Homo sapiens: one gene and its partners. The protein of the gene in region 1 purifies or fractionates together with the protein of each later gene. This does not show direct contact. Each region holds a gene or a part of one and is shown in the gene's direction. Other genes may lie near its edges.

The links.
Region 2: the proteins of BRF1 (region 1) and ITPRID2 purify together in Homo sapiens (affinity purification with mass spectrometry, with the first as the bait; one large-scale study listed by BioGRID). This does not show direct contact.
Region 3: the proteins of BRF1 (region 1) and LRRFIP1 purify together in Homo sapiens (affinity purification with mass spectrometry, with the first as the bait; one large-scale study listed by BioGRID). This does not show direct contact.
Region 4: the proteins of BRF1 (region 1) and POTEI purify together in Homo sapiens (affinity purification with mass spectrometry, with the first as the bait; one large-scale study listed by BioGRID). This does not show direct contact.
Region 5: the proteins of BRF1 (region 1) and FLII purify together in Homo sapiens (affinity purification with mass spectrometry, with the first as the bait; one large-scale study listed by BioGRID). This does not show direct contact.
Region 6: the proteins of BRF1 (region 1) and USP28 purify together in Homo sapiens (affinity purification with mass spectrometry, with the first as the bait; one large-scale study listed by BioGRID). This does not show direct contact.
Region 7: the proteins of BRF1 (region 1) and RAI14 purify together in Homo sapiens (affinity purification with mass spectrometry, with the first as the bait; one large-scale study listed by BioGRID). This does not show direct contact.

The regions. Positions count from the first base shown.
Region 1 is NC_000014.9:105,213,671-105,217,968, reverse strand, and holds part of BRF1 (transcription factor IIIB 90 kDa subunit), read left to right. Parts: intron 1-168; coding exon 169-425; intron 426-690; coding exon of another isoform or gene 691-817; exon of another isoform or gene 818-4,298.
Region 2 is NC_000002.12:181,894,520-181,898,817, forward strand, and holds part of ITPRID2 (protein ITPRID2), read left to right. Parts: exon of another isoform or gene 1-179; intron 180-1,510; coding exon 1,511-1,560; intron 1,561-2,032; exon of another isoform or gene 2,033-2,104; intron 2,105-2,388; coding exon 2,389-2,445; intron 2,446-4,298.
Region 3 is NC_000002.12:237,629,953-237,634,250, forward strand, and holds part of LRRFIP1 (leucine-rich repeat flightless-interacting protein 1), read left to right. Parts: intron 1-4,298.
Region 4 is NC_000002.12:130,502,535-130,506,832, reverse strand, and holds part of POTEI (POTE ankyrin domain family member I), read left to right. Parts: intron 1-2,938; coding exon 2,939-3,053; coding exon of another isoform or gene 3,054-3,083; intron 3,084-3,213; coding exon 3,214-3,387; intron 3,388-4,298.
Region 5 is NC_000017.11:18,251,810-18,256,107, reverse strand, and holds part of FLII (protein flightless-1 homolog), read left to right. Parts: intron 1-844; coding exon 845-925; intron 926-1,253; coding exon 1,254-1,339; intron 1,340-1,425; coding exon 1,426-1,587; intron 1,588-1,925; coding exon 1,926-2,029; intron 2,030-2,388; coding exon 2,389-2,564; intron 2,565-2,649; coding exon 2,650-2,807; intron 2,808-3,551; coding exon 3,552-3,636; intron 3,637-3,961; coding exon 3,962-4,109; intron 4,110-4,291; coding exon 4,292-4,298. UniProt on the Homo sapiens protein: Is a regulator of actin polymerization, required for proper myofibril organization and regulation of the length of sarcomeric thin filaments. It also plays a role in the assembly of cardiomyocyte cell adhesion complexes.
Region 6 is NC_000011.10:113,812,753-113,817,050, reverse strand, and holds part of USP28 (ubiquitin carboxyl-terminal hydrolase 28), read left to right. Parts: intron 1-1,668; coding exon 1,669-1,877; intron 1,878-3,095; coding exon 3,096-3,166; coding exon of another isoform or gene 3,167-3,175; exon of another isoform or gene 3,176-3,296; intron 3,297-4,298. UniProt on the Homo sapiens protein: Deubiquitinase involved in DNA damage response checkpoint and MYC proto-oncogene stability. Involved in DNA damage induced apoptosis by specifically deubiquitinating proteins of the DNA damage pathway such as CLSPN.
Region 7 is NC_000005.10:34,829,699-34,833,389, forward strand, and holds the end of RAI14 (ankycorbin), read left to right. Parts: intron 1-33; coding exon 34-99; intron 100-989; coding exon 990-1,067; 3' UTR 1,068-2,914; downstream 2,915-3,691. UniProt on the Homo sapiens protein: Plays a role in actin regulation at the ectoplasmic specialization, a type of cell junction specific to testis. Important for establishment of sperm polarity and normal spermatid adhesion.

The DNA.
Region 1 (4,298 bases):
AGAGAGCACCAGGCTGGCCCACATTCTGGGGGGAGGAGGCAGGAGCGGCCCTTCTGAGGGCCTGAGCCAGGCCTCACCCGCCTGCACTCCTGGCCTCACGTGGAGCCCCTGATGGTGGAGTGCAGTGGGCGTGACTCACGGGAGGCATTCTTGCTTGTTTCCCTCAAGCCCAAGAAGTCTTGCAAGCGACGGGAGCCAATTCAGGCCAGTACCGCCAGGGAGGCCATCGAGAAGATGCTGGAGCAGAAGAAGATCTCCAGCAAGATCAATTATAGCGTGCTCCGGGGCCTCAGCAGCGCCGGCGGGGGCAGTCCGCACAGGGAGGATGCACAGCCCGAGCATAGCGCCAGTGCCAGGAAGCTGTCACGAAGGAGGACGCCGGCCAGCAGAAGTGGGGCTGACCCTGTGACCAGTGTGGGGAAAAGGTACCATCCTGTCCTGAGTGGCTGGGTTAGGGCAGCAGCCCAGGGCGGGCAGAGGCCCATGGCTTCGGGTCCTGGAGCTGCCGGGGGCCAGCCGGGGCCACAGAAGTGCCTGGAGTGGCATTTGCCACCTGCATGCTGGGGACTGGTGGGCCTTCTCCGGCACCTTGACAGTGTCTCAACTCTCCTTGGCCTGGCAGGCTGTGAGCGGACGGGCGGGTCCAGCTGTCAGGGGGGTCCTGCAGCCTAGGCTCTGTTTTGTCCCAAGGAGGGGCTGGGACAATCCGTGGGGTCGGTGCCTTCTCCAGCCTGGGTTCGGGAAGAAGAGTCCCCAGCCCTGCCGCCCTGTGCCTGCTCTGCGCACCCTGGCTGCATTGCCGTCTCTGCTGAGGTGATGGGTGAGAGCAGCACACTGCTGAGGAAGGAGGATGTGGGTGGAGAACGTGGCTGAGGGACGTCAAAGGCGGGATGTGCTGGCCTCAGCGCACAGGGTCACGAGGCTCTGCAGCTCCATGCAGGGCCGCCTTGGAGTGGGTCGGCCTCTGTGCACAGCTTGCCGCTGGGTGGCGGCTGCAGGCTCTCCTGACGAGGCCATGGGCAGCTGGGCTCACCTGCTGCGTCTTGGGGGCCTGTGGCTGGTCCATGTGTCCCTCTGGCAGTGGAGATGGGGTTGGCGGCTTAGCTTCTGGGTCCACCCTTTGGTGGTTCCGACCTTCACTCCACCCCACCGAGTCTCCGGGCTGGGTGTGTCTGCTGGTCCTACTGCTTCTTGGGATCTCTTGCGTTGTCTCCAGCTGCTTCCGCCTGTGGGGCAGTGCTGACTCTCGGCAGCCCCGTCAGGGCCTCCTGTTGTTTGCGGTATTTGCGGTGGTTTCTCCTTGGCCTTTTGAGCTGCTAGGCTGGCCACTGCACCCCGCGAGAGTTGGCTGTGCTGTGGCCCTGCCCCTGCCCCTCCCCTGGGGTGCCCAGGTGCTACTCTGTGAGGGAGCCTGACCTCCTGGCAGGCTGGTGCTTCTCAGCCGGCGTCTCAGCCCCTCAGGAGGGCCGCATGGGCTGTCTCCTCCACATCAGCCATGCACTGGTCCTCTGGGGGTGCATTCCTAGCACAGCTCCTGGCATGCGTAGGAGGTCAGTGGGGCAGAGGTGAAGTCAGGGCAGGTCTGTGGCTCGGTTCCCCTGTGCCTGAGCACTCCCAGGTCCGATCTGAGGCTTTAGTCTCCGTGTCCTCTGCCTGCCTAGCCAGCCTCTGTCAGCGCTGGAGGTGGGGGTCCTGTCCCAGTTGGGTGATTCTGGTGCCTGGTGACAGGGTTCACAGCCCCCTCTGTCACATCTGACCAGCTGGCCCAGACAGGGCCCGGGTGTGCATGTGTGTCTCTCTGTGTGTGTATACATGTACATGCAGTGCGTGTATGCCTGTATCTGTGTGCATGCAGTGTGTGCCTGTGTCTGTGCGCATGCAGTATTTGTGTGCATGTGTGTGTGTGTGCCTGTGTCTGTGTACGCAGTGTGTGTGCCTGTGTCTGTATGCCTGCAGCGTGTGTGTGCATGTGTGTGTGCGCCTGTGTATGCAGTGTGTGTGCATGTGTGTGTGTGCCTGTGTCTGTGTATGCAGTGTGTGTGTGCCTGTCTGCGTATGCAGTGTGTGTGTGCCTGTGTCTGTATGCCTGCAGCGTGTGTGTGCATGTGTGTGTGTGCCTGTGTCTGTGTATGCAGTGTGTGTGCATGTGTGTGTGCCTGTGTATGCAGTGTGTGTGCATGTGTGTGTGTGCAGTGTGTGTGCATGTGTATGTGCCTGTGTCTGTGTATGCAGTGTGTGTGTGTGCATGTGTGTGTGTGCCTGTGTGCATGCAGTATTTGTGTGCATGTGTGTGTGTGCCTGTGTATGCAGTGTGTGTGTGCCTGTGTCTGTGTATGCAGTGTGTGTGTGCCTGTTTCTGTGTATGCAGTGTGTGTGCGCCTGTGTCTGTGTGCCTGCAGTGTATGTGTGCATGTGTGTGTGCCTGTGTCTGTGCATGCAGTGCGTATGCACACAGTACGTGTGTGCGTTGGTGCACTCAGTACGTGTGTGTGTGCATGTGTTCTGGTGTCTGCACACAGTGTGTGCCTGTATCTGTGACTGCACATAGTGTGTGTGCATGTGTGTAAGTTTTTGTGTGCAAATGCAGGTGTGCACGCCTATGTGTCTCTCTGTGCATGCAGTGTGTGTGCATGCAACATGTGTACCTGTATGTCTACAGATTGTGGTGTGCAGGTCTTTGTCTCTATGTACACGTGTGTGCATGCATGTGTCTGTATACACTGTGTTTCTCTGTGTGCGTGGGGCGTGTGTGTGTGTCTTAAGTCTCTCAACTGTGTGCAGTGTGTGTGCATCTGTGAGTCTGTGTGCACACACATCTGCGTGTTCGTGCACTGCTTCCTGCTTTAGAAACCCATCAGTCTTCCCCCCAACATGGCCATGATCTGATTCGGGAATATTTAGTGTTCTAAGACGGAAGCATGAAGACCTCAGGGCTGGGGACCCCCCACACTCCCACCCCCACTCAGGCCTGGGCAGCTCAGGCAGTTCCAGCGGGGCAGGGGAGAGGGGGTCTACCTGGGGACAGAAGGGCTTGTCCCGGTTGCCCTTGCAGCCCATGGGGGCAGCTTTTCACCCACACTCGGGTGAGGAAAAAGGGATTTGGACCACTTGGAAAGAGGCTGAGGCTCCGACGTGGGGAGGGGTGGTGGGGAGGGACCATCAAGGAGGGGTTCAGCTGAGGAGGCACTGCCTCAGCCCAGCGACCACAGCGTTCCTCAGCAGCAGCTGTGCTGCCTTGGGTGGCCCAGGCATGGCAGTCCCTCCTTGCTGTGGGGGAACCAGCCTGAGCTGCACCCCCTTTCTCTTTGGCTGCCGGTGGCTGCCTAGCCCATCTCCCTCTGGCCACCTGCCCCTGGTCCTGCGTCATGATGCATGCTTCCCCTGATGACAGACAACTGCAGAACCTGAGCTGGGCCACTCAGGGGTGTGGGCAGCTGAGCCACGCAGGGGTGTGGGCAGCTGAGCCATGCAGGGGTGTGGGCAGCTGAGCCACGCAGGGGTGTGGGCAGCTGAGCCACGCAGGGGTGGGCCATGCATGGGTGTGGGCAGCTGAGCCACACAGGGATGTGGGCAGCCGCTCCCTCCGAGCTTGTCTCCTCCTCACTCTGTGGTCACTCGGGCTGCTTTGACCCTCGGGGTCTTCCTCTAGCCCATGCAGATCAGTCTGTCCTCATGCCTGAGCGTCCCACTCTGGGGACAGGCAGAGGGGCCAGTGTGGGCTGTGGGCCCCAGCGCCCATATCTGGAAGGGGGACAAAGTGGGGGCCCACCAGATGAGCTGCCCTCTTGCCTGCTTACAGGCCCCAGGATCCCCCCAGGCTGGGCTGGGGCCGAGCTTCAGCCAAGCGGGGTCAGCAGGTGCTGGCGCGGCTGCGAGAGGGAGCAGCCTGAGCCCAACAGTGGGTTTGCGTGAACAATGGGCCGCAGCGCCCCACATCCTCAGGCCCCTGGCTGGGGACCCCCGTACAGGCCAAAGCCATGGCCGAGGTGATGCCAGGTGGGAGCTTGTTCTCCAGGCGCTCTCAGGCCCTCCCGTGTGGCCTGGCTGCCTCAGGTTCACACAGGATACTGCGTGGAAGAGGGGGAAGCCCTTGAGACAGGCCCCCAGCTAGCCCGCAGACCCCAGGAGCCCTTGCGGTTCTGCACTCATGAACACTACGCACCCTCTCTCCAGCCGGGTTCTGCAGGAGTAGGGAGCTTTCTGGCCCCCCAGGGTGAGGCCTGGCACAGCTGCTTCCTGGTTCTGGAAAAGCTGGACTTGTCTGTCAGGACCTTGGGTCAGTGCAGCAGGACCTTGTG
Region 2 (4,298 bases), on another chromosome or scaffold:
ATTTTTGTTTTAAATAACAACTCAAGTTCCTTCTCAGAGTTGGGCATCTATGTATTTTGTTTATTATGTACAAATGACCTGAAGACAGCATTTTACCCACTTGATAAGTTCTCAAATAGTCTTTGTTTCTTAGTGCCGTCCATATCCTGAATAAAGATACCGTGTTTTCTTTCCTTAAAGGGAGTCTTTATTTTGATAACCATTTGTGGGGGGACTAAGTAAAAACTGCTTGAATTAACATTTAAGAAATGGTAGAGATTTTGATAGAATTTGGAAGGGAGCAACTATAAAAGTAAGATATTTGTTTTCGAAGGAGGATTCCTGTTACTCTGCTTATCTACCATTTTCTGTTAGTGCATAGACCAGTAGAGACATCTGTGGACAGAGTAATACAATGTTTACATCCAAGAAAGTAGCCATCAGGGAAGGATGACTTTTTAAAGACATACATTAGAATTTTATTAAAATATATGCAAAAAATAGATTAAAGCTTTTATTAATATATTTATGGTAATTGCTTGTGATTCTTTTACGTTTCAAAAGCACTAAGTTTTAAAGAGCTGCCATTGTTAGTATACTTGTAGAAAGTTTTAACCTTTAATTGGCATTTCAGTAACATTTCCTTGAAACTGATATTTTCATGATTGATCCCATGTCTCGTGAATTTTTAACAGCTATAAATTGTTACTGAAGAAAGGTGTGCATCACAAAACAGACCCTCCAATATAAAACAATGTGTTTCTTACTATAACTTGGTTTCAGAGAATTAAAAGTGTTTATTTTTGTATTTGAAAAAAAGATATTTCTCTCATCTGTATTTGAACTACAAGAATGAAAAAATTTTAGCAATGGCTAATCTTAATGTTGATTCTCAAGTCAACTTTTTAGTAATTTTCAAAGTTAAATGAAGAATATATATATTTTTTAGCTTAAAAACAAAGCGAATCTCAAGCTTCTACATTTACATAAAAAGATAGTTGTTGGGGCAAGGGGGAGGCATTAGGTGATGCTCTGAAATGCTAGTGATAGATTAACAGATGAGGTTTAAGGAAACTATTGGGCCTCATTTCCAACTACTCTTCACTTTTTAATTTTATTAAGGTTAAGTTACCTATGACTGAAGATTTGTTTTCTTCTAATTCTGTTTTCTTTTTTGATGGAAGGGGTTGAGAAGAACAGACATTTTCTTAATGCTTATTGTCAGTCATTCTCTCTTTTTTGCAAAGAAAAATGCCAATTCAAATCATTTGTCATTGCCATTTTTGCCCCTAATTGTTAGCACATCAGACATGATTAAATCATTCCTGCTGAACTGACCTGATGGCAGGTATTTGCTTAGTTAGTGAATATTACTTATGTAATCTACTTGCATTCCTTGTGTGTTTTTGGAGGAGAGTTTAACTGTGATTAGAAGCTTATTGAGCTGTAACTCTTTAAGTAAGGCTGTGTAATGACAACTTTCCAAATAGCCTTTCACAAGACTAAGGCTTATACGTTTATATGGTTTCAGTACACCTTTGGGAGCCTCACTGGATGAACAAAGCAGTAGTACACTCAAGGGTAAGAGAAGGTTGCCTTTCTAAATCTGTTCTTTATGACAGTTCTACTTCTTTGTCCTCTGGGTAAAAGTGTATATATGACTTATAAAAGTGATATTCATGTTTATAGTATATGCTATTCTGAGCTAGAAGCAAAATGGAGAAACTTTGTTATAAACCGTAAAACAGTAGGGAGTTTAAGCAAATTGCCTAGCCTTTTCACAACGTGAAACTTATATCTTTATTGTCCAGTTAGGTATTATAAAGACTAATTAAATATGAATATATAATATGCAAATATAAGGAAAATACTTATTGAGTGAACAAAAGTTTAGTCAACTTTCGTGCAGCATTTCTTTGCTTACATTTACTGAAATTGCCACACCTAAAATTTTACCACCTGTTCAAGACAGAATTCTAAAGTTCAAAGTACAACAAGCATGTGCAGGCAGTGGCAAGGCATATAAAAAAACATTTACAGTGTCAGGAAAATCCAGCTCCTGACTTAATATGAGATGGATAAGAAGAATATTTGCTCCAGGATCTGGTTTTCCATGAAACTCTTGGTATGTAGTCTGATTGAACATCTTCAAAAATATAAGTTTAAAACAGCCTATAGGTTGGCTTCTGAGAACTTTATGTTGCTGGAAAAGTGGTTTCTTTACGTTAAAGTAAAAGCTTATACCTGCTTCTTGAAGTTATATAATCAGAATAATGTCTGAGTACATTCAAGTCTGAAAGATTTTACTGTATAAGATATTTTGCTGGGTGAATTTAACTAAAACAGTGATTTTATATGAGGGTGGAGAGGAACAGAACACCAGGATGAGTTTTCAAATGTGTCTTTCAGGTGTGCTTGTGAGAAATGGAGGAAGTTTTGAAGATGATTTGTCATTGGGAGCTGAAGGTATGTTTGTTTGGAAGAACTGTATTTTTGTGTAGTTTTCAAATTTAAAAAAAATGAGAAAGCTGAATGGTTTCAGGTTTATGATCCTCAAGCTAAATTTAAAGGTCTTGAAAATGGCTCAGGCATATTTTACATTACCTTTCTTTGTTAATAATCTAGTCATAGTCTGTAGGATACATGTAGGGATGACTCTGAAAAACTATGTGAAGTGTCCATCTGTCTTTCTTGGACTAAATGCTTAAAGGAACAGTTTGTAACAAACCGTGGTAATATAACTGAGGGAAGAATTGTCCTGAAAAAGGAAGGACACTTAAATATTTATACATGGGAAAACAAAATTGAAGCTTATTTTTAGCGCAAAATAGACTTATGTCATACTTACAGCTGCAGCTTGTCTTTCTCTTTGCATTTAAGTGTCTCCTGTCTTTTCCCCATTTTCCTGATTTTTAGAAAATTAAAGGGGAAAGACAAAATAGCAGAGCTAATAGAATTTTATTAGAAATCATGCTGGTGTTTATTCCAGAAAGCATTAGATTTTAAAAAGTGTGTTGTGCTATTTAAAAGTTTTTACAAGTTATGTAATGTTTTCCAGTAGATTTATAATAAAGCTTTCTTGTACAAAAAATAAGAATTTTTAATTATTTTACTGGTGTTTTAAAAGCTATTTTATAGCTCATTGATCAAATTGCATAGATTATTCATAGCTGTATAGCTCAGTTATTAATGTGTACTTTTTTAAAAAAAACAAGGATTTTTAAAAAGTCTTTAAAGCTTACAAGTTGGTGAATAGTGAATTTATACATTGAATTTAATATTCTTGATTTTTTCCTGTTTCAAATGCATCTGTAAAGTAAATTACTTATTTAGAACCTTCTAACATTTAAAACTCTGGAATATGCAAATATATTAGTTCTTATTATTTCTGTTCATATATTTTCAAGCTCTATAAAGAGCTTAAACTTACTGATTCCCACTCAGTACAATTGAACATGTTGTCAATCCGTTATTAAAATGCACTTTGCACTTTTGATATTTGCCTTGGTAGTTTGATAATATTGAATGATTTTATTGGAAACCAGAACCTAAAAAGGAGTCTCATGAAAGAGTAAATCTATTATGTTGTTTTACTGAAAATTATTTCAAGGCTATTTCCATTCATTAAGTAAATAATTACTGAGTGCTGTGAGTTAGGCACCTTTCTGGTGGATGTACAAAGAAACACAAAATTGTCATAACTTTGTAGATCAGAAATGAAAAGCAATTCATGTGTGCTGAAATAGATGTGTTTATAATTAATTTTATTCTTTGTATTTGTCTATAAATTTAACTTTAAACATTAACACTTACCTGTTTAGAACTTTAAGCTAAAGTTCTATCATAAAGTTGAAAGGCAATTTTTAAAAGAAAGTTTATATTGAAATAAGTAGAAATTTTCATGTTATATGTGTGAAAAATCAGTTATAACCTTAAAAAAAATTCACATTAGAAACTGACATATACTATTGCCACACTTAATGTTAAATCATGTTTTCCTCTTAAGATATTATTCATTAATAGCTTTTAAATTTAATAATTAGTACCACATATATGGTACATATCTTCCTCATTACTTATTTCTAACCTGTTAAAGAAATTTAACTGGTTCCCTATACGTTTTTTTATTTTAAGCACTCAAGTGAGAGTAGTTAGTTTCATGTTGCCACAACACAAAAACACCCTTCAAAAGCTCCTGGCCCTGTTCTTATCTATCTGTATATCACTTTTAATAATGCAGATTTAATGGACCAAGATAAGTGTTTAATATATTTGGCATTTAATTCTAATATTGTAGGTAATTAGATTTCTTGATAATT
Region 3 (4,298 bases), on another chromosome or scaffold:
GGTGAGTTACTCACTCTTCTCTGGGCCTCTGTTTTCTCGTCTCTAAAATGGAGAAGAAGAAACCTCCCCTGGCTGTCAGAATTAAAGAAAGTGGGTAGCAATGTAAAGTATGTAACTAGGCGGTGGGTAAATATGAGAGCTTCTTACACGCCCCTCCCGGTAAAACCCAGCCGTAGGTGCAGCTGTTACTAGTGCTGAGTAGCACAGATTGATAGGGTTGGAGGGAGCAGGTGTGACATCTTATGTTTTAGTACAAATTAACTTCTATTTCTCAACTGTGAAAATGAAAATCACTATTCAAATGGCAAATATCTACTCCTTGAATTCATCAGGGTTCTTATAGAAATCAACAAAATCGTCTTGGGTTCAGTACTTTCTTATTCACTCATTGACTCAACAGATACAAGCCATGGTATCCAAATTCCTGTCCTGGGGAGACTGGAGAGTCAGGGAGGAACCCGGCGAGGACCTGCCTGCCCTCCAGGAGTTGGGTCAGAAAGGGGTTGACACCTGTAGATCAATAATGCTAACCGAAGACAGGAAGGGATCTGATATAAAAAGGGCGTAGACAGTGTTCTGAAGGTTTGGACATGAGAGAGAATCACAGCCGGCCAGTGGTCTCAGAAGTGGCTTCCTGGAGGAAGTGGCATTTTGAGTTCTTGAAGGCTGTATGTACCAGTCAAGATGCTTTGGCTGCTGGGACAGAAACCCTGACTGGACTGACATTGACAAGGGGAAGTATATTGGCTGGAGCACAGCAAGCCCGGAGGCAGGGCAGGATTCCCCGCCAGCCTCACCAGTGGCTCCGGCCTCTTTTTCCCACAGCACCTGCGCAGCTGGTTGGGCTGGGCCATCCTCTGTGGGTGGCCTCATCCTCAGGCTGACTTGCTTCATGGAGGCCAGCTGGCCTTGGCTTTCCCGGGCTGCCACTGTGGAGCCCACACACCGTCTCTTCTGGTGGCTCTCTCCAGAGAGCTAGCAGTATCTCCCTGGTAAACTTTCATGAGTCTGTCTGGCCACTCCTGCACCAAGCTCTTTGACAAGGACCATGGACTTAGGGGCTCAGTGCCTGTGGCAAAGGGGGGTGGGTCTACCCTGTGACCTGTCAGACTCATCCTGGGACTGGGGAGAGCCGGCCTCCCTGAAACACTTGGGAAGGTGGGGGCCTGAATGGAAACTGGGGAGGCTTCAAGGAAGTGGGAGGGAGTGGGCTGCCACTTGGGCCTGGCACCCAAGAACATGCCTTCTGGAGAGTAAGTGGAAAATTCTGGGCTGAGGTCATTGGGAAGCCTGAGTCACCTGGCAGGGACGTGGGTTCCAGTTCGCTGGAGCGAGGGGAAGAGCTAGGCTGCCCTGTGCAGGCAGGGCTTTGCACTCTTCTGGGTAGAAGCAGGACTCGTGGTGGGGGCAGCCTTTGGAGGGTGCATTTCTGCTTCTGCAGCCGGTGTCCTGCTTCCATGTGATGGTTTAAACTCTAGGCAAGCGTGTATAGTAAAGGGAGTTATTTGCAAATGCTGTATTATCGCAAGTCAATTATTTCTCACTCTCTTGTTGCAGTGGAATTCAGGCGGGATGTTATCAGGAGAAAGGTTTAGTACGCACTTGCAGAAGCTCATTAGCACCAAAGGCATGAGCTGCGCCTCCCACTTCTGGGGAGGGGTGTTTCCAACGCAGATAGATTTTCCTCTCCTACCGCATTTCACATTCTACTGGTGCATTTTGGTAGCATCCCAAACTTCTCATTCAGCACTCTGCAGCTGAGTAAAGCGATACTGGTCTCACCATGCAATTCAAAGTATTGCTCTCAAATGAAGAATGTTTTTCCCAACAGGAACAGTCATTTGCGCAGGCTGCATTAGGAACTCACCGTGGGGCCTTGAGACAGTGCGGTGAGCTTATTATCCCCTGGTGGTGCCATAGGTACCCCTTCCTCACCCAGCAGGACGGAGGCCCTCCCCCCATAACTGTTTCTGCAGCCTCCTCTCCAAGCTGGCCCCTCTGTGGCCTGCGGCCTCGGGCCCTGATCCATGGCAGGGGCACTGCTGCCCCACCCGGCTGCTTCACCGGCCCCAAGTTGACTCGTGGGCCTGCGGGTGCTGTTGGTTCAGGCCTCACAGCCACCGCCTTTCACTTGAGCCACGGCCACACAGGAGTCCAGTTGCGGAGAAGGGGTCGCACTGCCCCCAAGGAGTCCAGTTGTGGAGAAGGGGTCACACTGCCCCCAAGGAGTCCAGTTGTGGAGAAGGGGTCACACAGCCCCCAAGGACTCCAGTTGTGGAGAAGGGGTTGCATTGCCCCCAAGGCAGCCTGCAGCCATCAAGTAACCATTTTGTGAGGTCACAAAATGTCCCCCAGGCTTGTTTCAAGATGCAACCAATTCTGTGGTACGTTTCCTGCTCCGGAGCTCTCTGCGGGCCAGGCTGAGGCCAACTCCTGCCGAGACCACCTCCCTCCCCAGCCCTTCCCTGACTGGCCTGCCCCCCTCATGCCCCTGCTGGGACAGGGCTCACATCCAGTCCTGCCATGGGCTCTGCTTCTGGAACCCAACATAAAGCCATGCCCCTTGTTTCAGGTAGTTCGTAAATATCGGGTCTTTTCATCCTAAGTCCCCCTTTCATTCATCTTTTCTCCCTGTCCTTCCCAAATAGCCCTCCTATATCAACCTGTGCGGAGGGAGCCTGTCTCTCTTCTCCTCAAGGCTGTTGGAGAACCAAGCTGGGGATGGGGTGCACGTGTTCTTTTCCAGAACAGCCCAGAAGTGGGGTTCAGTGTGGAAACTTCGCTCTACCTCTCTCCAGCACTAACCTGACCTGGCTCCTCTGGGGTGGAGAGTCCAGGACTGAGCCCAGCTGCAAAGATGCAAATCTGGGTCCCCAATGCAGTCCCTTGCCCTCTGGTGAGGTGACCCTGGGGCCAGAATTCACCTGCACGCAACCAAGATGTCAGACTTGTCCCTAGGCCTATTTCACTTGATTTGAAAGTGAATTTCATGACTTTTTTCTCTATGAATTTGCTTTTCTGAGGCTGGCCAGCAGATTGCACACCAACTGAGTGCTGCTGGACACTGGTTTGCCATTGGGGCTGGGCCCTGCCCCTTTGTTCCACAGGAGTTGGGAGAGGTGAGGGGCGTTCAGTGCCCGGCAGGACACAGGACTGTCCAGCCTGAACAACATCCTGCCTCCAGTTGGAACCCAGCCGCAGTGGAGTCACTGAGGGCTGTTCTGCAGCTGATTCTCCTAAGCCAAACACCCATCTTGGCAGATCGTCTACAAGGTTTTAGGAATGTGACAAGACTGGTGTTCCAGACGGATTTTTACCAACAGTCTGAGCTGTTGGAGGGCGTGAACAATGTGCCTGTGACCTTGGGCTGTTTGTGCGATTCCCAAAAGATGCTTCTGGGTTTCTGAGTCCACAGAAAACTCAGCTGTGGACAGGCCTGCTGGTCCCCAACGGCCCTGGGCCCCACCCCACAGCTATTTCTGTCAGAGGGCCAGCTGTCTCCCTTCTTCCTTTTCTGGGTGACTCTTGAGCCACTCGTTGGCCTGGTACTCAGGGTTGGGATGTGTGTGTGGAGAACATGACCTGGCTTCTAGCCCTGCCTGTCCCCCGTGAGCCCTGCCCGTCCCCAGTGAGTGTGAGACGGGAAAGGAGAGAGGGGCGAATGGAGGTTGCTTCTAAGACCCAAGGTGTGCCAGGTACTCTGGAAGCTTTACTCCCATAGTTTGTTTAAATCCTGTGAAAAGAGTTCCGAGTCTCTCTGTTTGACAGAGAGAAAACAGACTCAGAGACACCATGGGACATGGCTGAGGCCACCTATTAATTAGGGGCTGCCAGTTCATGGCCCAGGCTGCTTCCTGGATCAGCCCCTCAGCTCCCTCCAAGACCCCATTCAGGCTATGTCCTGCAGGCAAGCCACCTTCTTCCTATCCCTGGCACATGTCGTCCCCCACTGACCTGTGAACCACCAGGGGTGACATTTCAGGAGAGAGAGTCCCATATCTGTCTCTGCCTTACTGTATCTCTCATCTTCTTTTTCCATCCTTTCATCTTTAAAAAATTGATTTTTATTTCATCAGAGTAATATATGTTTTTACCCATATTCTCAGGCCGTTCCCCACACAGTAGGCTGGGCAGTCCTTTTAAAATATGTCAGATCATGCCACTTCTCTGATAAAAACTTTCCAAGGGTGTCTTGTATCACTCCGTAAAACCCAAGTCCTTAAACAAGCTACAAGACCCTCAATGATCTGGTAATGATCTCCTTGTTTATAAATAACATACATATGTATTACACATTA
Region 4 (4,298 bases), on another chromosome or scaffold:
CTATTTAAGTTAGAAGAGGAATGAAAGGCCGGGTGCAGTGGCTTACGCCTGTTATCCCAGCACTTTAGGAGGCTGAGGCGGTGGATCATGAAGTCAGGAGTTTGAGACCAGCCTGGCCAGTGTGGTGAAATCCCATCTCTACTAAAAATACAAAAAATTAGCTGGGCATGGTGGCACGCACCTGTAATCCCAGCTACTCAGGAGGCTGAAGCAAGAGAATTGCTTGAACCAGGGAGGTGGAGGTTGCAGTGAGCCGAGATCGCGCCACTACATTCCAGCCTGGGTGATAGAGTGAGACTCCATCTCAAAAAAAAAAGAAAAAAAAAAAAAAAGGAATGAAATACTGTTTTCCATCCACAAAGTTTGTGAGGATGAAGAACAGTGGTACTTATGTAGTTGTTTAAAGTTTAAGTTGCTGCAGCTTTTCAAACAGACACTTTAGTGGTAAGAACTACATTTTAAAAATGTGTATGCTTTTTACTTATCAATTCCATTATACTGAAATATCTTTACGAAATAGATGTGTTTTTCTTAGTATTGCTTAAAATAGCAGTGTATTTAGAAGAACCCATATAAAGATTTTATGAACAAATTTCAGTGCATCCATAGGATGGAATAATATGTAACTATTGAGGGTGTCAGTAGATACAGAGATATGTCGACGTGCAAAGATGTACTTTGCTATATCAAGTGAGAAAAAAATCAGTTTGTTACACATATACACGAACAGAATCTGCTCGTGTTAGCTGCAAATCTGTAGAAAATATAATCAAACTTGTTTCTGGGGATTTGTAAGTGAAGTTTTTCCCTTTCTCTTATCTGTGATTTCTGCAATGAACATCTGAAGTTGTAGTTAAGGTTCATTACTAATGCAATAATCCTTGGGAAGAGAAGGAATATGCTTCTTGCATAGATGCAAATAATTCCTCACATTCTATTATTTATTTTTATTTCTGTGGTTGGCTATTTTCTGTGAACTTTTACCCTCTTCAGAAGAAGAGGGGTCGTGTTTACCTGTTCCTGTAGATTTTATTATATATACATTTTATTCCATAATTATCTTTTCATTATATATAGATTAACATGTAAAAAGTATGAATTAATCATTTTAGTTGAGTTATATATTTATGAAAATTAAAATAGCAAATATAAATGATTATTGCTATTGCAAATGTATTGCGCTACTCTATAGGAGTTTTCTTTAAAAATATTGAACTCCCAAGCTGTGTTCATCCATTTTTCCTATCCATTTAGTCATCAGACATAAGCCAGACACCTATTATGTGGCAGGCATATTCTACTATCTCTCAGGATCCTTCCGTCTTTGAAAACTACATGTTTTCCTGCTGGGCTTGAGCAAGCTGAGAGATTTAAAATTGGGGCATTAGGACTTAATCTCAATTGAAGCTTTTCCTCCCTCCTTTCAAACAAAAGCATTTCTGGAGGTAGAAAATAGTAATAGATAACCTTTAACTGCCCTTTTGAAAATTTATGTCTTGGGGAAAAGACTGTTTTAGTTGTTTTAAGAACTAAAATGTGGTACATAAACAGCATGGAATAATATGCAGCCATAAAAGAAGGAACGAGAGCATGTCCTTTGCAGGGACATGGATGGTGTTGAAAGCCATTATCCTTAGCAAACTAACATAGGAAGAGAAAACCAAATACAGCACGTTCTCAATTACAGGTGGGAGCTAAATGATGAGAACACACAGATACCTAGAGGGAAGGAACACACACTGGGGCCTATCAGAGGGTGGAGGGTGGGAAGAGGGAAAGAAGCAGGAAATAGAATGAACAGGTACTGGGCTTAACACCTGGGTAATGAAATAATCTGTACAACCAACACCCTTGGTGCACATTTACCTATGTAACAAACCTGCACATCCAGCACATGTATCCCTGAATGTAAAAGTTGAAAAAAGCTCCACAAATAGTTTCATAAATCCATTTTAAAACAAGAAAATTTATAACAGTCTTAAATCCTAATATGAATGATTGGAAATATCTGATGTACATACATTGTATAAATCTAAGTGTTGACAAAAATGAGCCCATGCTATTCATTTGAATTCCAAGTTTTCTTTGACTTAAAGTTTATTGAAAACCAAAGTAAGAATTGGTTTATTTTAGAAATTTGTTTTTGTTTTCACCTCTGCTCTCTTATTCCATAGTTCTTTTAGGAACTAAAATTTATCTAAATGCTGGTCATCTGACTGGAACCGCCCCAGACCTGTTGTAACATATTCTACTTAATGTAAGACACCAGGGATTGTATGATGCCCCATTATTTTATGCCTCAATAAGAGAATTATTTAAATGCCGCAAATTATAGTAAATCATGAATTGTAAGTGGTATTTCAGTGGAGACAACATGGAGACAATGATCATCTCAGAATCACTAAAATACAATGTTAGCTGTAATATTTAAAACACACCTGAAAGTGCAGGTATAATTGTATCATCTCAATTCAAATGTTGTCTTTAGTGGTATTAGTAAAAATTAAAATATCTAACAATTATTGAGCTGTTATTTGTGTTAGGAACTATTCTATATCTTTTGTGCAGAGTCTCATTTAAGCATTACAGTGGTTTCCCGTAAGAAAGCTACTATTTTCATTCCTATTTTATTGATGAGGAAACTGAGACCCCAAAAGGCTAAGCAACAGCCAGGAAGTGACAGAGCTTCAAGTAGGATTCCAGCTCAAGTTGAATGTCATCCAAGGGCTATGCTCTTTGTATTCATATAGGATGCTCTTTCATTAATACAGCGAGTAAAGAGAGATAATAAATAGTGTGCTTTTTTCATGGGAAAGTTAAATGTTTGTTTTGAAGGCAGAGTAATAGCAGGCTATTCAGTGTTTGCAATTACATGAATCATTGCTATGGCTGTAGCTAGTGCACTACAATTTCCTAAAAAGTCTTGTCACTCTCATAGGACTGCTCTACATCTGGCCTCTGCCAATGGGAATTCAGGAGTAGTAAAACTCCTGCTGGACAGACGATGTCAACTTAATGTCCTTGACAACAAAAAGAGGACAGCTCTGACAAAGGTATGCAGTAGCCAACTATATCAGCATGAGGTGGGTTTGATTTCAATACATAGCATAAAAATGAGTTTTCTCCTTTAAATATAACTTAGGTGGTGAAAGCTGTGGAATGTTATTTTGAATTCCTAGGATTTGTAATTTGTTTTTGGTCTAATACTGACAGGCCGTACAATGCCAGGAAGATGAATGTGCGTTAATGTTGCTGGAACATGGCACTGATCCAAACATTCCAGATGAGTATGGAAATACCACTCTACACTACGCTATCTACAATGAAGATAAATTAATGGCCAAAGCACTGCTCTTATACGGTGCTGATATCGAATCAAAAAACAAGGTATAGATCTACCAATTTTATCTTCAAATACTGAAATGCATTCATTTTAACATTGACCTGTGTAAGGGCCAGTCTTCCATATTTGGAAGCTCAAGCATAACCTGAATGAAAATATTTTGAAATGACCTAATTATCTAAGACTTCATTTTAAATATTGTTACTTTCAAAGAAGCATTAGAGGGTACAGTTTTTTTTTTAATGCGCTTGTGGTAAATAATTTTTTTGAAAGCACTGAATTTGTAGAAGGTAATACTTACTATTTTTCAATTTTTCCCTCCTAGGATTTTTTTCCCCTAATGAATGTAAAATGGCAAAATTTGCCCTGAAATAGGTTTTACATGAAAACTCCAAGAAAACTTAAATATGTTTCAATGAATAGAGATCCTGCCCCTTTGGCAAGTTCCTAAGAAACAGTAATAGATACGAAGGTGATGCGCCTGTCAGTGGCAAGGCTTAAGATATTTCTGATTGCTCATGAGGCAGAAGTGGAAAGCGGAAAAGAGAGCAATCAGAAATATCAAGGCCAATTTGGAAATTAGGTAATAGAGGGAAAAGACCATGAAGAGGTTGTGTGTGTGTGTGTGTTGTCGTTGTTGATTGATTTGTTCCCTTTGTATGTTGAGACAAGGTTCTCTTCAATTTTAGAGAATGACAGTTTTCAGTTTGGGAGAGGGAGTTAGTGGGTTGTAAACTGAATAGAGATCAATTTTAGGAGGCCTCTGAGGAACCAGATTGGCAGTGAATAGGTGGTAATGTAAGGGGAAACCCTTGAGCAGAGGGAATATCAAGTAATTAACTGACTTAGTATCCTATTCTGGTAGAAATGGCCAATTAGAGTCTCAGCTCTGCTTTCAAATCTAGAGTGTCTGGATGGGAAGGTGGAAGATAAATAAGTAACAAGATCAAGTTGG
Region 5 (4,298 bases), on another chromosome or scaffold:
GGTGTTGAGTGGGGTTTGGCCGGGAGCACCGTGTACCTTCTACCCAAGACTTGAACGTCCCAGAACATCAGGCCCTTGGCCAGACCCTGTAGGCCTCAACGAGGGCCATCCCATCTGAAGTCAGAGCCCTGGAGATGTTTAGGGCACAGCTTCTGACTTGGACTCTCTGAGTTCAAAGCTGGGCTTTGCCACTTCCTGGTGATGTGACTTTGTACAAATCGCTTCTACCTTCTGGGCCTCCTCTGCAAGTGCAGTGGTTGGGAGGGGCAGCAGTGACCCCGTGAAGCAGCAGCAGGGTGCCGCACAGGCATTCAGACTGGAGAAGTGGCGGGGCAGCTCCGGTGACTCCCGTTGTCACTTGGAGTCACGACACCATTCTCTGGCCCTGTTCCCTCATGCTCAAGCTTTCTGCATGTCTGTAAGGTATGAGGAGGTGTCAGTCTTAAGTTAGGGAGAGAAAGCAGACTTCCTCTCCATCCAGATTCTGATTTCTCTGTGGTCCACTTCTCTCCCTCTGTTCTGAAAACCCTGACTCAGACCTTACCCCTATCTCACCTTCTGGAATTAAGAAGAAGAGAAATGGTTTGAACAGAAAAGGTTCCCTGAGGGCCCTGTGCTGGGGCTCCGGGGCACATTTGAGCTGGGCTTTGAGGCATGAATAGGAGCTCACTGGGAGGCTAGGAAGAGCGCTCCAGGAGAGGGAGCTATTTGATCAAAGGCCAGAGGTGAGAGAGTCCTCAGGCCTGGCCTCTGGTGAGCTGCCTGAGGAGGTGTCCCTCTCTAGACTCTGTTCCTTCCTGAGAGTGGAAGCCAGGAATTATAGACTCTTATGGTTTATTCCCAGGCCATCGTGGCCCGAGCCAACAGTCTGAAGAATTCCGGAGTCCCCGATGACATCTTCAAGCTAGATGATCTCTCAGTCCTGGTCAGTGGCTACCCACTCACCTGGCCCCTGTGCTAGCCGGACCATTCAATCCCCACTCACTATAAAAGTCCCTGGGGCCATTGTTATCCCATTTTGCAGATGGGAAAACTGAGTCTTGGAGTGGATAATACCTTGCCTGAGGTCACTTTTGGAGTCAGATCCCTAACACAGGCACTCTTCCTCCCAAGTCCCTGGCTGTCTCCCTTTGGCCCTGAAGCCCCCTCATCTACCCCCACACCCAACTCAGTGCCCTGCCTGATCCCCAAGCTTGGCAGACGCCTGGTGGGGAGGAGACTCCCCTGACCTGGGTCTTGCCCCTTCTACCCAGGACTTGAGCCACAACCAGCTGACAGAGTGCCCGCGGGAGCTGGAGAACGCCAAGAACATGCTGGTGCTGAACCTCAGCCACAACAGGTGCCAGGCCAGTGGGGGGCAGGGGGCAGGTGGGCCCTGTGGGGTGGCTGGTGCTGACTCAGGTGGCTCCTGCTCCCCACCCGTAGCATCGACACCATCCCCAACCAGCTCTTCATCAACCTCACTGACCTACTATACCTGGACCTCAGCGAGAACCGCCTGGAGAGCCTGCCCCCGCAGATGCGCCGCCTGGTGCACCTGCAGACGCTCGTGCTCAATGGAAACCCCCTGCTGCATGCACAGCTCCGGTGGGCGCCCCCTCGGACCGCACTCCTGCAGAAGCCACCCTGAGGAGTCTGGCCGGGCCCCTTCACTTCCCAGGGCCCTAACCCTTCTCCCTTAGGCCCAGCCATCCCTCCGTGCAGGCAGCACCCCTCAGTGTACAACCTCCTAAGTATCATGTCCACCTCTCAGTCCTGTCTTCCCGCTTACACACCCCGCAACCACCCTTGGGCTTGTCCCTTCAACCAGATGTGACCTCACACCTACCCTCTGGGCCCTGTGCTTTTGGTCCTGCCCTGCCAAGCCCCACCCTTAACACTCCCTAGGTGGGCCCTGGCCCTGACCACTCACGTCACCCTGGCAGGCAGCTCCCAGCGATGACGGCCCTGCAGACCCTGCACCTGCGGAGCACCCAGCGCACCCAGAGCAACCTGCCCACCAGCCTGGAGGGTCTGAGCAACCTCGCAGGTCAGGCAGCCCCAGGAGCCCCTCTGAGCTCGGGCCCCCTCTGGGCCCTCTTGCTTCCTTGGGTGGAAGGGGTTGAACCCTGCTCTTCGGACCAATACCCAGAGGGAAAAGGCTGGAGTTATGTTACAGTGACTTTTGCGATTATGATGATGCCTTAACACTGACTTTATGCCTAGAAAACTCCCCCGCAACCCCCATGTGAGGGAGTTTGTCCAAATGGAGAAACTTGGGCGCACAGCAGTTGTCACTTGCCTAAGCCACACAGCTCAGAGGTGGCAGAGCTGGGGTTCACACTAGGGCTGGCTGCCCTGGCACCTGGTGTATGGGCCCCAGCTGATGCACCCCACCCTGCACCCCAGACGTGGATCTGTCCTGCAATGACCTGACACGGGTGCCCGAGTGTCTGTACACCCTCCCCAGCCTGCGCCGCCTCAACCTCAGCAGCAACCAGATCACGGAGCTGTCCCTGTGCATAGACCAGTGGGTGCACGTGGAAACTCTGAACCTGTCCCGAAATCAGCTCACCTCACTGCCCGTGCGTCTGAGGCCCTCAGTAGGGGGATGGGAGGAAGGCCGTGAGCCTGGCCCTGACCTCCCACCCCTGCCCGTTCCCCCTCCAGTCAGCCATTTGCAAGCTGAGCAAGCTGAAGAAGCTGTACCTGAATTCCAACAAGCTGGACTTTGACGGGCTGCCCTCAGGCATTGGCAAGCTCACCAACCTGGAAGAGTTCATGGCTGCCAACAACAACCTGGAGCTGGTCCCTGAAAGTCTCTGCAGGTGCTGGGCAGGGCTGGGGCTAGCAGAGGCACTTGCAGCACAGAGAACCCCGGGATCGTAGTCAGAGCCCACCTTGTGGTCTGTGCAAGTCAGACAAAATGAAGATGGGTTAATTCACCTTTTCTTTTCTTTTCTTTTCTTTTTTGTTTTTGAGACAGAGTCTCGCTCTGTCGCCTGGGCTGGAATGTAGTGGTGCAATCTCGGCTGACTGCAGCCTCTGTCTCCCAGGTTCAAGCGAATCTCCTGCCTCAGCCTCCTGAGTAGCTGGGATTATAGGCGTGCGCTACCACGCCCGGCTCTTTTTGTATTTTTAGTAGAGATGGGGTCTCACCATGTTGGCCAGGCTGGTCTTGAATGCCTGTCCTCAAATGATCAGCCTCCCAAAGTGCTGGGATTACAGGTGTGAGCCACCACGCCCGGCCCAGTTAACTCACCTTTGTGGATGAAGACCACAGTCCCATGCCAGCCATTCCCAACTTGAGCCCCTGAGAGCACCCTTCGGGGGGCACTGTTAGGGACAAGGCCACATGACGTGGGAACGCAGTGTTGCTTCTCTCCCCTTCTGGAGATCACAGTGCCCGTAACATGGTCTCTTGGCTCTGAGAAGTCCTTCAGGCAGAGAATGGAGACCCCCGCCAGTTCCTCTGACCCTACCTGCCTCCCCTCCCCAGGACTAGGGGTTTTCTTGCCCACTTCCCCTTGTCTGTCACCTGCCTGAGGCCCTGGCTGGCCCTGTCTTCACAGGTGCCCAAAGCTGAGGAAACTTGTCCTGAACAAGAACCACCTGGTGACCCTCCCAGAAGCCATCCATTTCCTGACGGAGATCGAGGTCAGGCATGCTGGGTTTGAGAGGGCTCAAGAGAGACAAGCAAGGGGTGTGCCCTGGAGCAAGGGGGACCCAGCAGAGGCCTCCTGAGGGAGGTGGCCAGTGCCAGGGTGCCCGTGGGGAGAAGGTGGGCCCCACCTCCCTGCATCCAGAGTACATTCCACAGTCTCATTTAAGCCCCCAGCCAGCCCCAGAGGTGGGTGGGAGGAGAACCCAGTTCCCTGACCTCTCAGCCCTGGCGGCTGCAGACAAGAGCAAGAAACTGGATTGGTGTGTCTGGGAGGTAGGACCCAGGCTCAGTGCCGGCTCTGCTCACCCTATGGGGCAGGTCCTGGATGTGCGGGAGAACCCCAACCTGGTCATGCCGCCCAAGCCCGCAGACCGTGCCGCTGAGTGGTACAACATCGACTTCTCGCTGCAGAACCAGCTGCGGCTAGCGGGTGCCTCTCCTGCTACCGTGGCTGCAGCTGCAGCTGGTGAGTGGGGAAAGGTCTGGCCTGGGAACGGGGGCTCCTCTCCAGGCCTCAAATGACACATCTGTAAATTGGGTGGCATACAGCTTTCTGGACCCTGGTGGGTGGAGTTGGCCCCTGGTTGGTCGCATGCCCAAGGGGGCAGCAGGCCCAGTGAGGGCTCAGCTGTTTGCCCCTCCCCTAAGCAGGGAG
Region 6 (4,298 bases), on another chromosome or scaffold:
ACACTAATACTCAATAAAAAGTTAGACTTTTTTGTCAAAAAATCTTAACTATTCTCCCCAACACATCCCCCGCCACCGCCCCACGTATTAATATTTATTCATCCATGTATGCATAGAAATGCTTATTTGGATAGAACATACCAAATGTCAAGAATGATTATCTCTAAGGAGTGACATGAGTCTGGGGATAGGAGTGGGGCTGCTCTTTCACTTTTTATATTCTACTTAAATTTTTTAATTTTTGTAAAAATAGAATCTTTTTATGTATATTATGAAATGTAAAGTTTTAATTTTTAAAAAGTGGTTCGGCAGGCTATTTAATCAAATAAAATAATAGTGCTTGGTATTAGATTTAAAAATTACAGGGAGGTGTATGTGTGTAATCTCCTCTGAAATTGAGATATCTGTTCCCTTGTTGGGCTTATTTTTCCATAAGTATGGACCTTAGGGAAAAGAGATTTCCTCCATTATTTTGTGCATGTGAGAGAGTGAGGAGGAGGGAGTGAGGTTTTTTTGTTTGTTTGTTTGTTTGTTTTTTTGAGATGGAGTCTCACTCTGTCGCCAGGCTGGAGTACAGTGGCATGATCTCAGCTCACTGCAACCTCCGCCTTCTGGGTTCAAGCGATTCTCCTGCCTCAGCCTCCCAAGTAGCTGGGACTACAGGCGTGCCACCATGCCCAGCTGAGTTTTGTATTTTTAGTAGAGATGGGGTTTCACCATGTTGGCCAGGGTGGTCTCGATCTCTTGACCTGGTAATTTGCCCTCCTTAGCCTCCCAAAGTGCTGGGATTACAGGCGTGAGCCACCGTACCCGGCAGGAGTGAGAGTTTTTTTTTAAGTCAAAGTAAAGGAAGTTTATATTCTTCAGCTTTGGTGTAAAAGAGAAACCTAACTACAATTAGAAGCTTATTTTATATTCCTGCTGGTTTGTTGACCTGCAGTTTTACTCTGACAATAGAGAAATTAACATTTACTTGATATGCTTTATTCTCTGTTAGTTTACAGAAAAGACGTAAAGAACTTAAGATTTATATTTTGTAGATGAGATATTAATACTTTTTTCCTTGGGTATTTAGCTAAAGTAGTAGAGCTAGGATTGTTTGACTTGAAGCCCTTCTCTCAGAACTCTCCAAGGTGTCACCTAGTGTGTATTCCTGTGAGTTGTATGTTCAGCTGATGCTTCCTTTTTCTTCCTTCTGTGTATTTTGTTCCAGGAAGGATAGTGTCACTTTAGTTGGCTTCATCTTGTAAACTCTGTAGTTGATTCCTTGATTCTTCCAGGCCTAGTCTTCTCTTTTCCATTTTCCTTCTCTTCCCATCCTCATGGGAAGGAATAATCAGTGATCAGAGAACATGAGCTAAAGACTGGCCGATCTGGCTTTGGATTCATTTTCATTACCTTCCAGCTTGGTGAACTTGGGCATGTTGCTTAATTTATTTAAACCTTAGGCTCACAGTTGGTAAAATAGGGATAGAAAAGTATCTACCTCACAGGCCAGTTGTGGTACGTGAGATGATAGAGAAAAAGGTTGGCTCTGTACCTTTATAGAGTTAATGCTCACTGAATACCTGTACTTTTTCATATAGCATCTTGCTTTCCAAAGTACATAATTTAGGCCAAGGTATCTTTTGGAAATTATCATATGAGCATGATTTTTGTCTTCCTCAGTACAAGTACAGAAAGCTCTTCTCAGGATGTTGAAAGTACCTTTTCTTCTCCTGAAGATTCTTTACCCAAGTCTAAACCACTGACATCTTCTCGGTCTTCCATGGAAATGCCTTCACAGCCAGCTCCACGAACAGTCACAGATGAGGAGATAAATTTTGTTAAGACCTGTCTTCAGAGATGGAGGAGTGAGATTGAACAAGATATACAAGGTTGGCTCTTTTAAAATTTGTCAGTTACTCTTTGCTTTTTCTGTTTTTTGACTATTTGGAGGTTAAGCACCTCGGTACACTTCCTGACATTACTGTACATGCTACAGAATTTCCCCCCCGCCGAGATGGAGTCTCACTCTATCACCCAGGCTGGAGTGCAGTGGTGCAATCTCAGCTCACTGAAACCTCCGCCTTCCGGGTTCAGGCGATTTTCATGGCTCAGCCTCCCAAGTAGCTGGGATTATAGGCATGTACCACCACACCTGGCTGATTTTTTTTTTTTTTTTAGTAGAGATGGGGTTTCACCATGTTGGTCAGGCTGGTCTTAAACTCCTGACCAAAACTGATCTGCCTGCCTTGGCCTCCCAAAGTGCTGGGATTATAGGTGTGAGCCACTACGTCTGGCCCATGCTTTTGAATTTTGACATGGTAATTGTGACTTCTTTTGCACTTTTAGTGCCCTGTAAACTTGGCTCACACACCCCCATTATACAGATATGGAAAGATCTCCCCCTCAAAATTTCTGGGAAATGATCACCTTTGCTGAGATTTTTCTGCATCAACTGATTTCTGTTTCTGTGGTAGATTATCTGAACTCCAGCTTAAGTTGACCCAGATTTAGCATTTAGCTTTTCTGGACTTCTACTCTTCAGTCTTTTCTATAGGAAGCATGCTTTACTGAAGGTTAATGAGGTATTTGAGCAGTATGCACAATGTAAAATTGGATTATTCAGCATTGTATTCTTAAAAAGCCCTTTGACCTCATTGCCCATATTGCTCAGACTAACCTTACCCCCCTTCCTGTCTCCTTTTGTCTAGGGAACAAAAAGATGATGGAAAATACAGATTCTTCCCAGATTCCTATTCAGAGAAATTTAGCCTTACCCTTTGTTCTGCTTTCTCATTTCAGATCCTGTCTGAGGCATACATTTTACAGCCAAGTGACCCATTAAGATCTTTTCCTAAACAGCTTACTCTTTAAGAAATTTTGGCAATTATAAAAAATAATGTTTTAAAACCTTAATGTAATTATATTGAACTAAAAGCTTTCATAACCTAAAGTACTAGCTGCTTTAAAACTGTATATTGCTTCGTGGTTCATAGAGGGAAGCTGAAATCATTAGGACCCTAGCAATATTCTTTGCTTAGTTAAAGTAGCCTGTGTGACATAGAATGAGATCATTTTAGTGAAGCTTTTGTTTTTCTTTTTCCAAACAGATTTAAAGACTTGTATTGCAAGTACTACTCAGACTATTGAACAGATGTACTGCGATCCTCTCCTTCGTCAGGTAGAATGAAAATTGATGGGAAAGTAGTCAAGGCATGTGCTAATGGTAGATACAAAAATCAAATTTGATAGTTTTCTTTTAAACCCAATGGGAATCCCCCTAAGATAAAAGAATAAACTTAAGATATAAATTGATGTTGTTCTGTTTCTTTATTTTAGGCTAAAGAAAGCAATATACCTTTTACCAAAAACAGGACCTAACACATACTTGTTTGAATTCTGCCACATGGAATTTTTTCATATTGTAGAAAGGTTTGCTGTCAGATACTAATAAAAATTACTTACAAAATGGTACTTTAAGTAGTGCAGTGGGAAAAACTGAACTAGAGAACAGTTATCCTTTCTTTCCCAAAGTTCCATGATTCTTCAAGATCTTTAATTTAACAACATGCGTTCAAGCTTTATTTCTGTAATAATAAATTCCAAAAGAGAGTTAGGACAGAAATTCTTAACTATCCACAGAAGTGTTTGTTAGAATAAATTCTGGGAATGGAGGGGTAAAGAGCCTCCAGGAGTGTCTCTGAACCTATTCTGGTTAGGGGCATGGACTTTCAGTGGCTTCTGTATGAATGACTGGAATGGGCAGAATGGCTTGGAGGAGGGGAGCCCTGTTTCTAGAATGGCATTGAGGCACAGTCCCATTGCTTAACAGGAATGCACCATGTAAAACGCAGGCTTCCCCATTTTTTCTTTTGTGTTAATTCAAAAATCTTCACCAGTAATTAAAATAGGTCAAAGTAAGTGTAAATTTAATTTGATTCTGTGACTGACTTTCATCTCTTTTACTAGTATTTAGTTAGCATTTAAGCATTGCTCTATTTTCTCTATATTGAAAATACACAAATGTGCTTTTCAAATGTTGTAACAAACAAGTATGTCATTAAAAGGGTCTTCACTCCAGATAGATAAGTGGTCACTTAACTCTAAGAAGCATGTGGCTGAATTAAATATGTTAACTTAAATTTTGTTGCCAAATAAAATAGGCATGGAACAAAATAGCTGCTAACCTTTGTAGGTCCCAAATATGCTAAGCATTTTCAGCATGAGTGGTCAAGGTGATTCTATTTTTAGATAAACAGAGTTTTGAATTAGAAGGATGCATATGTTTAGGTTATGTTTGGTTTTAGATCTGA
Region 7 (3,691 bases), on another chromosome or scaffold:
GCTCATTAATAATGTGAAATATTCCCTTTCTAGGAATGCAAGAAACAACACCAGGAGGTCATATCAGTTTACAGAATGCATCTTCTGTATGCTGTGCAGGTATGGTTATGCCCCTTGAAGTATCTGGACATCCTAAAGAAATACGGCAGCAGATGTTGACAGAACTCCCATCATTTAACTAGGAGAATGAACAAGAATTAGAGGAGAATCCTTTTCACTGGAAAGCCTGAATATGCCTTTTGCATTGCTTTGGATTCTGTGTCAGGAGCCTTGTGCCCTGTTTACCAGGAACAGCCCCATCTTTTAAAGCAGGGCCTCACTCTGTCATGCAGGCTGGAGTGTAATGGCATAATCTCGCCTCACTGCAGCCTCGACCCACGGGCTCAAGTGATCCTCCCACCTTAGCCTCCCAAGTAGGTGGGATTACAGGTACCCACCACCGTACCTGGCAAATTTTTGTATTTTTGTAGAGATGGGGCTTTGCCATGTTGCCCAGGCTGGTCTCAAACTCCTGAGCTCAAGCAATCCACCCGCTTCGGCCTCCCAAAGTGCTGAGATTACACGCATGAGCCACCATGCCCCACCCTCCCATCATTTATTGAGGAATGAGGGATGATGTGGTCCTCCACTGGGAAGACGGGGGCTTTATTTTCCAGCAATGCTGATCTTCTTAGTTACCAGTGCTGCCTTGGCTCTATGATGCTTGGTGTTCTGGCTGCTGGACTCACATTTGCAACTGAGACCCCAGATAGCTTTTGCTGAGGGTTTTGGTAGACACTGCCACCTCATCTTCCAGCTGGATAAAGGCAGGGCCCTTTCTTTGACTCAGTTCCTCATAGAAATTTGGGAAATGATAGGGCTGACATTCCTGTGAAAGATGTGGGAATTAGCCCAGGTCTTCATTGCAGTCAGCCATCTCATTCCCCAGAGAAGAAAGTGCCATGGCTTAATTTAGGTTCTAATGAGTATCTTGTGTTTGAATATCCTAGGGCCAGATGGATGAAGATGTCCAGAAAGTACTGAAGCAAATCCTTACCATGTGTAAAAACCAGTCTCAAAAGAAGTAAAGTGGATTCCTTGGCAGGACACTGCCCCTTGTCATCTGTCTTTGTGTTAGATCCAGAGTTGTCGGCAGCCGCTGCCATTGTTCTCATTCGTGGTATGCACTGTGGCCTAGCGTAGCTTCTTCCCTTTCCAAAGGTTTCTGAGGACTTCTCCCAGGAGAAGACTGCCCGCCTCAGAACTGCTTAGAGACTTCAAACCAGCAGAGGTGAAAGTCCCTGTCATCCCTTCAGATTCCAGAGCTGGGATCAGCCATGCCCAGAGGTCTGGTCCTGATGCTGGCAGGGGGGCCCCCTCCTCCATCCCTGACTGGCTGAGTGGCTTTATCACCACCGAGTGATGTGCTGAGGCCTCCTGCAGTGAATGCTCCTTCCATTCCTGTACTCGGGCAGTGCCATTCAGCACAGGAGAGCTCTTTTTGCCTTTGGCTTTCAATTCCAAAACATGATTTAATTTCTAACTAAATTAGTATGGCACTAGTTATGAAGTATCTGCTTAAAACCCTTCATCATGATATCCTGTGGATTTAAAAACTCTAATTCCATGTTTTCTTCCCATCTGCCTTATATATCTCATCACCCTGCTTATCAATATTCAGTTTGATGAGCACTATTAACTAAAATATGAAACTTAAAAACAAAAGCAAGTTGTCCTTAAAAGTTCTTTTTTTAAGTAAATTGTTGACATACTGCAAATTTTCTATGCAAACTTGCCTCCTGCTGTTATCTGTGAAGCTCAGGAAATCCAAACATTTGTGTTTCAACAAGGGACAGTAAACTGTGTGTTTACAGCCAAAAGAAATGCCTCATAGTTCTTAACCTCAACTTTTGTAGAAGTATTTTTTTCTCTGTAATATTTTTATTGGCTCATAAAGATGTTTTCATATCTGAACTCCTAAATAAGTGAAATTACAGTAGATTATATTAACAAAATACTTTTTAGGTAGCCATGCTTGAGACTTTTTAAAAATATAACTTTTTCCTTAAAGTTTTCAGCTATAGCAAAAGGTAGTTATGTATGCCAGACCTAATATGAGCTGCCACCAACACCCCTAGAACTTTCAGCCATGGTGTCTTCAGAATTGTAGCGCATTTCTGAATCTAGCAAATCCTCCTTTTACCCGTTGAATGTTTTGAATGCCCTGACTCTACCAGCGCCCATAAATGATCTCTAGAAGGACTGTTAGTACCAATCTGTTTTTCAACTTTGAAGCTAAAAACCCTGATATGGTAATATTATGGTGCATAGCAGAGGTCTCGGAAAAAAAATATTTCTGTTCACTTTACTTTCAGGTTAAAAATGTTTCTAACACGCTTGCAACTTCCCTTATGGCATTAATCTTGTTGAGGGAGAGAGACAGAATCCTGGACTCTCCAAAGTATTTAACTGAAAGTAGGGCCTGCTCTGACAGGGCCCATGTCCCACAAGGCTGCTTGGCCTCAGTGGGTGCTTGGCTGTGCTGGATGATATGTTGATCTGTATTGGATAAGGACCAATGACAGCAAAGCAAAAATGGCTTTAAAGCTTGGTGTTACTTTTCTTAAGTTGTTTAATTATAGTTAAGCAATTTCAAAAATGCTCCAAAGAAATGTGAAAGGACCTTTTGTCACAGCACTTCAGAAAATACACAACAGCCCCTTCTGCCCCCGCACAGAAATGCTGCAGAGTATATAAAACTTGAGACATTTTTGTAGGATGCCTGACGAGGTGTAGCCTTTTATCTTGTTTCCGGATGCATATTTATTACGAGTACTCTGGTTAAATATTGAAAAGTTATATGCTGTAGTTTTTAGTATTTTGTCTTTGTAATTTACAGAAGTTATTGGAGAAAATAAACTTGTTTCATTTTGCATTTCTGGTGTTGATTTTTGGTGTATTCAGAAGCATATCTGCGTGGCTTCTGAAGATCAGTTCAATAGCATTTCAGTGTAATAGGTTTTCTAGTCTGTGCTATGCTCAGCTGGTATGAGTTGTCCGCACTGTCTCACACAAAGTCTCACATCATTTCCTTTTCCCAGCTCTTGGATTCGCCCTGAGCTCTGCCCTGAGTATCAGCCGCTTTGGGGCAGTTGAATCACAGTTGCCTTTAATTCACAATTGCCTCTCATTTAATCTGCAGTCTGTTTAACTGTTTGGAAGCCTCCGCTGGATTTTTTTTCCCTCTTGCTTCTTGCTTTTTTTGAAAAAGTAATACATACATATGTAAAAAAAAAATCCAGATACATTTTCCTGCCCCATTACAAAGACAATTCAATTAATTCCTGACAAAACTCTTGTCAGGTGAATTCTGGCAAGGTTAAAATCATAATTAAAATTGTTGCAGGTTATAATCATAATCAAAATTACATGAAATAGGTACAGCTACTTAAGAAGTTAGCATTGTTTATCATACTCCAATGTAACAAGGCCATTTCCCTTCACTTACAACATGATTCCACCTCTACTTCAGTTTCATTGTGCCTTCCTACTATACCCTGAAACTTTATTTCAAAGAAAGCATGTGTGTGATACTCAACTGAACCTTTTATTTCAACTGTGGCCAACCAGACAACTCAGAAGGTGACTTCATGGGGACACTCAGCTGGAGAGGAAACTGAGATAAACCCAAACCAGTCATCTCTGATGGACA